2 linked regions of the Homo sapiens genome follow. The protein of the gene in region 1 purifies or fractionates together with the protein of each later gene. This does not show direct contact. Each region holds a gene or a part of one and is shown on either strand. Other genes may lie near its edges.

Evidence for each region.
Region 2: the proteins of PRRC1 (region 1) and SEC24D purify together in Homo sapiens (affinity purification with mass spectrometry; one large-scale study listed by BioGRID and IntAct). This does not show direct contact.

Annotation. Positions count from the first base shown.
Region 1 is NC_000005.10:127,520,596-127,524,247, reverse strand, and holds part of PRRC1 (protein PRRC1), read right to left. Parts: intron 789-3,652; 5' UTR 769-788; coding exon 666-768; intron 1-665. UniProt on the Homo sapiens protein: May act as a regulator of the protein kinase A (PKA) activity during embryonic development.
Region 2 is NC_000004.12:118,829,546-118,833,197, reverse strand, and holds part of SEC24D (protein transport protein Sec24D), read left to right. Parts: intron 1-3,652. UniProt on the Homo sapiens protein: Component of the coat protein complex II (COPII) which promotes the formation of transport vesicles from the endoplasmic reticulum (ER).

The DNA of each region.
Region 1 (3,652 bases):
TCCCTAGTTTGAGCATAAAAACCTATGCCCTGAAGGCTCAGAAAGGTTAATCACCACAAAGTCATAGAGCAGTAGGCCGAGCGCAGTGGCTCACACCTGTAATCCCAGGACTTTGGGAGGCTGAGGCAGGTGGATCACCTGAGGTCAGGAGTTTGAGACCAGCCTGGCCAAAATTGTGAAATCCCATTTCTACTAAAAATACAAAAATTAGCTGAGCATGGTGGTGAGTGCTGTAATTGCAGCTACTTGGGAGGCTGAGGCAGGAGAATCACTTGAACCTGGGAGGCGGAGGTTGCAGTGAGATGAGATCGCACCACTGCACTCCAGCCTGGGTGACAAGTGAAACTCCGTCTCAAAAAAAAGAAAAAGAACAGAAGACAAAGCTAACACATGCTTTTTAGGATATTTCTGCCATAATATAAATGATGGTAAAATTATGAACATAAAGAACAAAAGTCCACCTAAAGCAAAACACTGATGTTTTCTTACTTTAAATACACAAGACTTTCTTTCTATTCTTTAAATTAAAAAGGCTATTTCCTTTCATCCTGAAAAATAATAGAGAAGTTTTAATATATGCATTCTTTTCTTAATTGACTCTGAGAAAAGATGATAGTATCTTCACTATTCTCAAAACACACGAGATGTTAGACAACTACATGTACCTAATGGAACAGGGGTAGAAGACATAGCAGTAGCAGCCAGCCCTGCAGGATTTGGTGGAGGAGTCCCAGGTGGTGTTGTCTCTATTCCACTCTCTTCCATCATTTTTCTTCAATTATGGTATACTATAAAAACACAAAAATGTAACAAATATTACACAGTAACCAAAAGTATATTTTTAAAGCTTGAATAGAGAACGACTAAAAAAAAAATCATCAAGAGATAGATGTCCACCTTTACTGTTTATAATGCAACTTATTTCCAGACGAAGAGTTTGTCCAAATTTCTAAGAAAGCAATCTATGAGAATATTTAATATCAAACAATCTGTAACATTCCCATGTAGATACTTTATAAGTGGGAAATAATTTCATGTTATAATAACAATATAACTAATTATCTACTACATTTCAAATAGTAAATTACTAATTTGATTTCTGCCACATGAATGCATGTTAGAGATAGTTATGTCTGGGCCAGGTGTGGTGTCCCATGCCTATAATCCCAGCACTCTGGGAGGCCAAGACGGGAAGCATTTGAGGCTAGGAGTTGTAGACAAGCCTGGGCAACATAGCAAGATCTCATTTCTAAAAAATAAAATAAGTAAATAATATAAATTTCAGTCATTATTAAATTTAAAATAAAAATGAGGCTGGGCACAGTGGCTCACGTCTGAAATCCCAGGACTTTGGGAGGCTGTGATGAGAAGATGCCTTGAACCCAGGAGTTCAAGGTTGCAGTGAGCTATGACTGCACCACTGCACTCCAGCCTGCGTGACAGAGCAAGATCTCTAAAAATAAATAAATAAAATATTTAATGTATTTTTGAAGCCCTTCCTCTTCTCTCATAAAGTACTGTGTATAAGATAACCCCATTAACATAAAAAAAAAATAAAGCCAGGCACAGTGGCTGACCGCTGTAAACCTACACTTTGGGAGGTAGAGGTGGGAGGATCCCTTGAGACCAGGAGTTTGAGACCAGCCTGGGCACCATAGGAAGACTCCATCTCTACAAAAAAATTAAAAAATTAGCCAGGCAGGGTGACATGTGCCTATGGTCCCAGCAACTCAGGATGCTGAGGTGAGAGGATCACCTGATCCCAGGAGGTTGAGGCTGCAGGGAGCAGTGAGAATGCCACTGTACTCCAGCCTGGGCAACAAAGCAGGACCTTGTCTCAATAAAATAAAATAAAATGTGCTTCACTTGATAAAAGCATTAATTCACAATTTTCCTAGTTCACATTTTAAAGCATATCCAGTAACAGATAAATTGTATATCTGAGGTTTTAGAAAAGTTAACTATAGCAAAAATGCCATTAGATAGCAGCATCCTAATAGACAACAATGGATTATAAAATATGAGAAAACTTTCTTTAAAATTACAAATCCTGAAGTGTATCTCAAGTACAGAACCAACTTCTAAATATGCTATATTTGTTTTTAATATTTTTATTCATTTAATAAGTTTTTAGCGAAGGTCAACTGCTTGACGAGCACTATACTGATGCCTTTGGAAATGACAATGATTAGCAAAAACAAATAGGATACTTACAGTCTAGTACACGAAACAATCAAATAATAAACCAATTTACAATGAATGGTAGCTGAATTATGTGCTCTGAGGGTAAGAACACAGTTTTGTTTGACAGGAATATGATTTTGACTTGGAGGTAAGGAAAGGGTTCCCCAAATAAGTCACAGATAAACCGAGATTTGAAGGATAAGAACTTAATTAGGCAAGGGAAGAAAGGCAGAGTCCAGAAAAAGTGAATATATAGCAAATATATATACCAACTGAGCTGGGAAGAACAAGATACATTCAATAAAATCCATGTGAAGGGAGAGAAAGAAGAATCAGGACTGGAGGGACAGACAGAAGCCCAGAAGGTGTTCAGCCTCATAAACCAGGTTAAAAAACTTGGGTTTTTAAAGAACAGAGTGTCACTGTGTTAGAAATAAATTTTCGGTGCCACAAAAGAAATAGCACTCGAACATAAATTTAATTTTCTCAGCAAGGCAATTTTACTTCTATAGAAGGGTGTGTCTCACAGATGGAGCAATGTCAAGAGCACACCTGAACAAGGGAGGGGAAGGGGTTCTTATCCTAACGCAGCTAGTCCCTACTGCTGTGTCTTTCCCCCATTGGCTAGGGTTGGACCACGCAGTCTAAGCTAATTCCAACTGGCTATTTTAAAGAGAGCAGGGGTATGAGCCAGAGCAGCAGGGTGAGTAGTTTGGCGGGAAGGACGGTTACAGAACAGGTGATCCAGGATGACTAAGAACAGAGCAGATGACCAAGGATTACTAAGGTCAGAGCAGGTGACCAAGGGTGACTAAGGTCAGAGCAGTTGATAGAGGCTAGAAGGGGATTGTTTACTGAAACTGGGGGCAAGGAGAAATAAAGAACTAGGAATTTAAACTTTAAAATGAAGAACAAAGAACAGGGGAGCTGAACATACTGATACACTGGTTCTTTGGAGAGGATCTCAGAACTCATTGTACTTAACAATTTACAGGCTAAAATCTATGAAGAGAAATTTATCATATCCTACAACTGTAAGGCATTCAAGCTGAGGGTAGCATAACTGTCTTTTGTTTTAACTGTTTTGAAGGAATTTTAGGTTCAAAAAAAAAATGTAGAAACAGCAGAGTTCTTGAGTACCCCAAACCCAGCTTCTCTCAGTAACAGCATCTTACATAACTACACTACAATGATCAAAACCATGAAACTGACATTGGTACAACACTATTAACTATAGATCTTATTTGTATTTCACATGTTTTTACATTTACTGTGTGTGTGTATGTGCATAGTTCTATGAAGCTTCATCATATGCACAATCTCGTATAACCACCACCTCGACCAGGACATAGAACCATTCCATCACTAAAAAGAAACTTCCTCATGTTGTTCCTTTATCTACCTTCCCGTCAACCATAAGCCCTGGCAAACACTGCTCTGTTTTCTATCACTTTCTCGTTCCATGAAT
Region 2 (3,652 bases), on another chromosome or scaffold:
TGTGAGGATAATTCTTTGTACAATTCTTTGTACAAATGGACCATGTATAAATCAATGAGTAACTCTCAGGGCTCACTGGAACTAGCTTAGATATCTGGGATCCAGGCTGTGCTAGGTAGAATGTATATAGTGCAGAATCAGCAAGGGGTGAGGACTCCCTTTAGTGAGGCTTGATGTTAGCAGCCACACACAGTGTGCTGCAGAAGATGCTCTGAGATTGTGAATTTCCTGTGGAAAGTCAGTCTTATGATTTATTCTTCCCGAGATTTTAAAGATGTCCAGATGAAGCATCCCTCTTCTTGTTCAGGACCATCCTCTCCAGAATGTTTGTAATCTTGCCTTACTGGATCCTGTAGAAACCATTAACCCCTTCAGTTTCTAACTGGTGGTTCATTTCTCCTCAGCATTTATTTATAATGATAATTATAAATTATTCCTTTTTATGATGTGTCGAAATCTGGCCCTAAAAGCTTTTCCTGTATTGTCTTATTTAATCCTCATACAATGCTATGCAGTAAGTTATTTTTGCAGCTAGGAAAACTGAATGTCTGGTGTCATGTGACTTGTCTAAGGTCACAGACAGCAAGTAGTAGCACCAGGATTCATACCCAGATCTCTCAAGAAGGCAAAAAACAAATTGCATACACACCTAAGTATAACACTCTATATTATTCACCCTTCCCTCTTCACAGGCATCTTCTTGAGAAAGTACTCACTATGCTTGGTAATCTCCACCTTTACCTCTCCTTCCCTCCATGGCTCAGCATAGTTTACACTCCATAGTTTGCCACCCCATCCACACTTTCACTTCCCTCACCAGGACTATCAGTGTCCTATTTCTCAATGCAGTAGACATTGTGCTGTCTGTCCTCTTTTGTATTTGACTCTGTTTACCACTCTCATTTTTACAAAACTCTTTTCTCCTTTGGTTTCAATGACACTATCCTTTTGTTGTTGTCTTTTGAGGTGGAGTCTCCCTCTGTCGACCAGGTTGGGGTGCAGTTTTGCGATCTCAGCTCACTGCAACCTCCGCCTCCTGGGTTCTAGTGATTCTCCTGCCTCAGCCTCCTGGGTTCTAGTGATTCTCCTGCCTCAGCCTCCTGAGTAGCTGGGATTACAGGCGCCCGCCACCATGCCTGGGTAATTTTTGTATTTTTAGTAGAGACGGGGTTTCACAATGTTGGCCAGGTTGGTCTCGAACTCCTGACCTCACGTGATCCACCCGCCTCCACCTCCCAAGGTGCTGGAATTATAGGTGTGAGCCATTGTGCCCATTTTTTTGGGTTGCTTTCTGGACATTTCTTTTGAAGGAATTCTTCTACATGACTCTTAAGTGTTGCTGTTTCTCCCTCCATGTTCCATCTTCACTACTGTTATCCCACTCTGTAGATTTTTCCCTAAGCTGGATCATTCACAGAAAGTGCTTGTCTCTCAGATCTATTTCTCCAGCCCAGATGCCTCCCCTAAGCTCTAGACCAGGGGTATCCAGTCTTTTGGCTTTCCTGGGCCACACTGGGAGAAGAATTGTCATGGGCCACACATAAAATACACTAACAATAGCTGATGAGCTAAAAAAAAAAAAAATCAAAAAAATCTCATAATGGATTAAAAAAGTTTTCAAATTTGTGTTGGGCCATATTCAAAGCTGTCCTGGGCTGCGTGTGGGCCGTGGGTTGGAAAAGCTTGCTCTAGACCCATATTTCCAGTTGCCCACCTTTGTTGAGGCACGTCACAGTCACCATGCCCAAAACAATTCCATATTCATCATGGAAGCCTATGTTTTCTGGCATTTCAAATCTCACTCATTAGCATCATTTATTTCGTGATCCATACCAGAAACTTTATTAAAAAAACAAAAAAACAAAACTTGGTGGGGTGTGGTGGCTCACACCTGTAATCCTAACACTTTGGGAGACCAAGACAAGTGGATCACTTGAGGCCCGGAGTTTGAGACCAGCCTGGCCAACATGGTGAATCCCGGTCTCTACTAAAAAAATAGAAGATAAAAATTAGCTGGGCATGGTGGCACATGCTTGTAATCTCAGCTATTTGGGAGGCTAAGGCATGAGAATCGCTTGAACCAGGGAGATGGAGGTTGCAGTGAGCCAAGATCACGCCACTGCACTCCAGCCTGGGGAACAGAGTGAGACTCTCTCAAACAAACAAGCAAAAAAACCTCTCCCTCCTTTTTATCTCCTCCAATGTAATCGGTCTCCCAAATCTTTTTGGAGTGATTGTAAACAGCTTTCCTACCTGCTTTCTCCTTTCCATTCTCCTGTCACTCTTTTTGTTCAATCCATCCATCTCTCACATGGATTACTAAAATGATCTTGTAACTATTATCCCTCTCTCCAATACTGTCTTTTTCCAAACCATCAACTCCTGAGCCAGAGGGATTTTTTTATACCATGCAAATCTAATTTGAATTCTTTTGTATTCTAATACTTTTTCAGGCCTCTATACTATTTGCCATACTGTGTTATAATAGATGTTCCTATAGTAGATGTTCCTGGAGCAGAGAAGGCACTCATGGCTGTTTTTAAAAAAAAAAATTTTAATTGGCAAATAAAAAATTATATATACATATATATATAATGTACAACATATTGTTTTGAAATATGTATACACTGTGGAATGGTTAAATTGAGCTAATTATAAATGTTTATTCAATGAAGTGGATGACAAACTGTAGCACTCATTAGCAAAACACTCTGGTATTTACCAATATTTAATTAAATTAAATTAATTAATTTATTTGAGACAGGGTTTTGCTCTGTTGCCTAGCTTCCAAGTAGCTGGTAGAGATGGGATCTCCCTATGTTTCCCAGGCTGGTCTTGAACTCCTCAGCTCAAGTGATCCTCTCGCCTTGGCCTCGCAAAGTGCTGAGATTATAGGCGTTAGCCTCGGCACCTGGCCTTACCAGTGTTTTTAAAAGCTGTCTTTGTTGGATTAAATCCTTCATGCTTTAGTTTAAACTGCTTTCTCCTTACTTAATGGCTATTAAATATCAGGTGAATAACCAGGCTATTATACTCTCTGCAAATATATCTTTCTATGCATATTGTGGTGTTTTGGTTTAATTATTTAAGACTTTCACTAAATTACTCCAGCTCTTATATCTCTGATTATATTCTGCTGAATAACCTTAGATACCTTAATCTTCAGTCTTCCTGTGTCTTCTTGTCTAGCCTTTTAGTGACGCTTTTATTGGTCTCCTGACAGACACAAGCAAACTTATTGTGGTTCTTTGAAGTATCTATTCCACTGTAGATCTGGCCAGTGCTAACTCTTGCTTTGTGTTGCTCACATTATCGTATCTCCATTTATGCTTATTCATTGTGTTTTTGTAAAGCTAGTGCTGTATACTAACACTTTTTTTTTTTTGAGACGGAGTTTCGCTCTTATTACCCAGGCTGGAGTGCAATGGCACGATCTCGGCTCACTGCAACCTCCGCCTCCCAGGTTCAAGCGATTTTCCTGCCTCAGCCTCCTGAGTAGCTGAGATTACAGGCATGCGCCACCACACCCGGCTAATTTTGTATTTTTAGTAGAGACGGGGTTTCTCTGTGTTGGTCAGGCTGGTCTCAAACTCCCGACCTCAGGTAATCCACCCGCCTCGGCCTCTCAAAGTGCTGGGATTATAGGCATGAG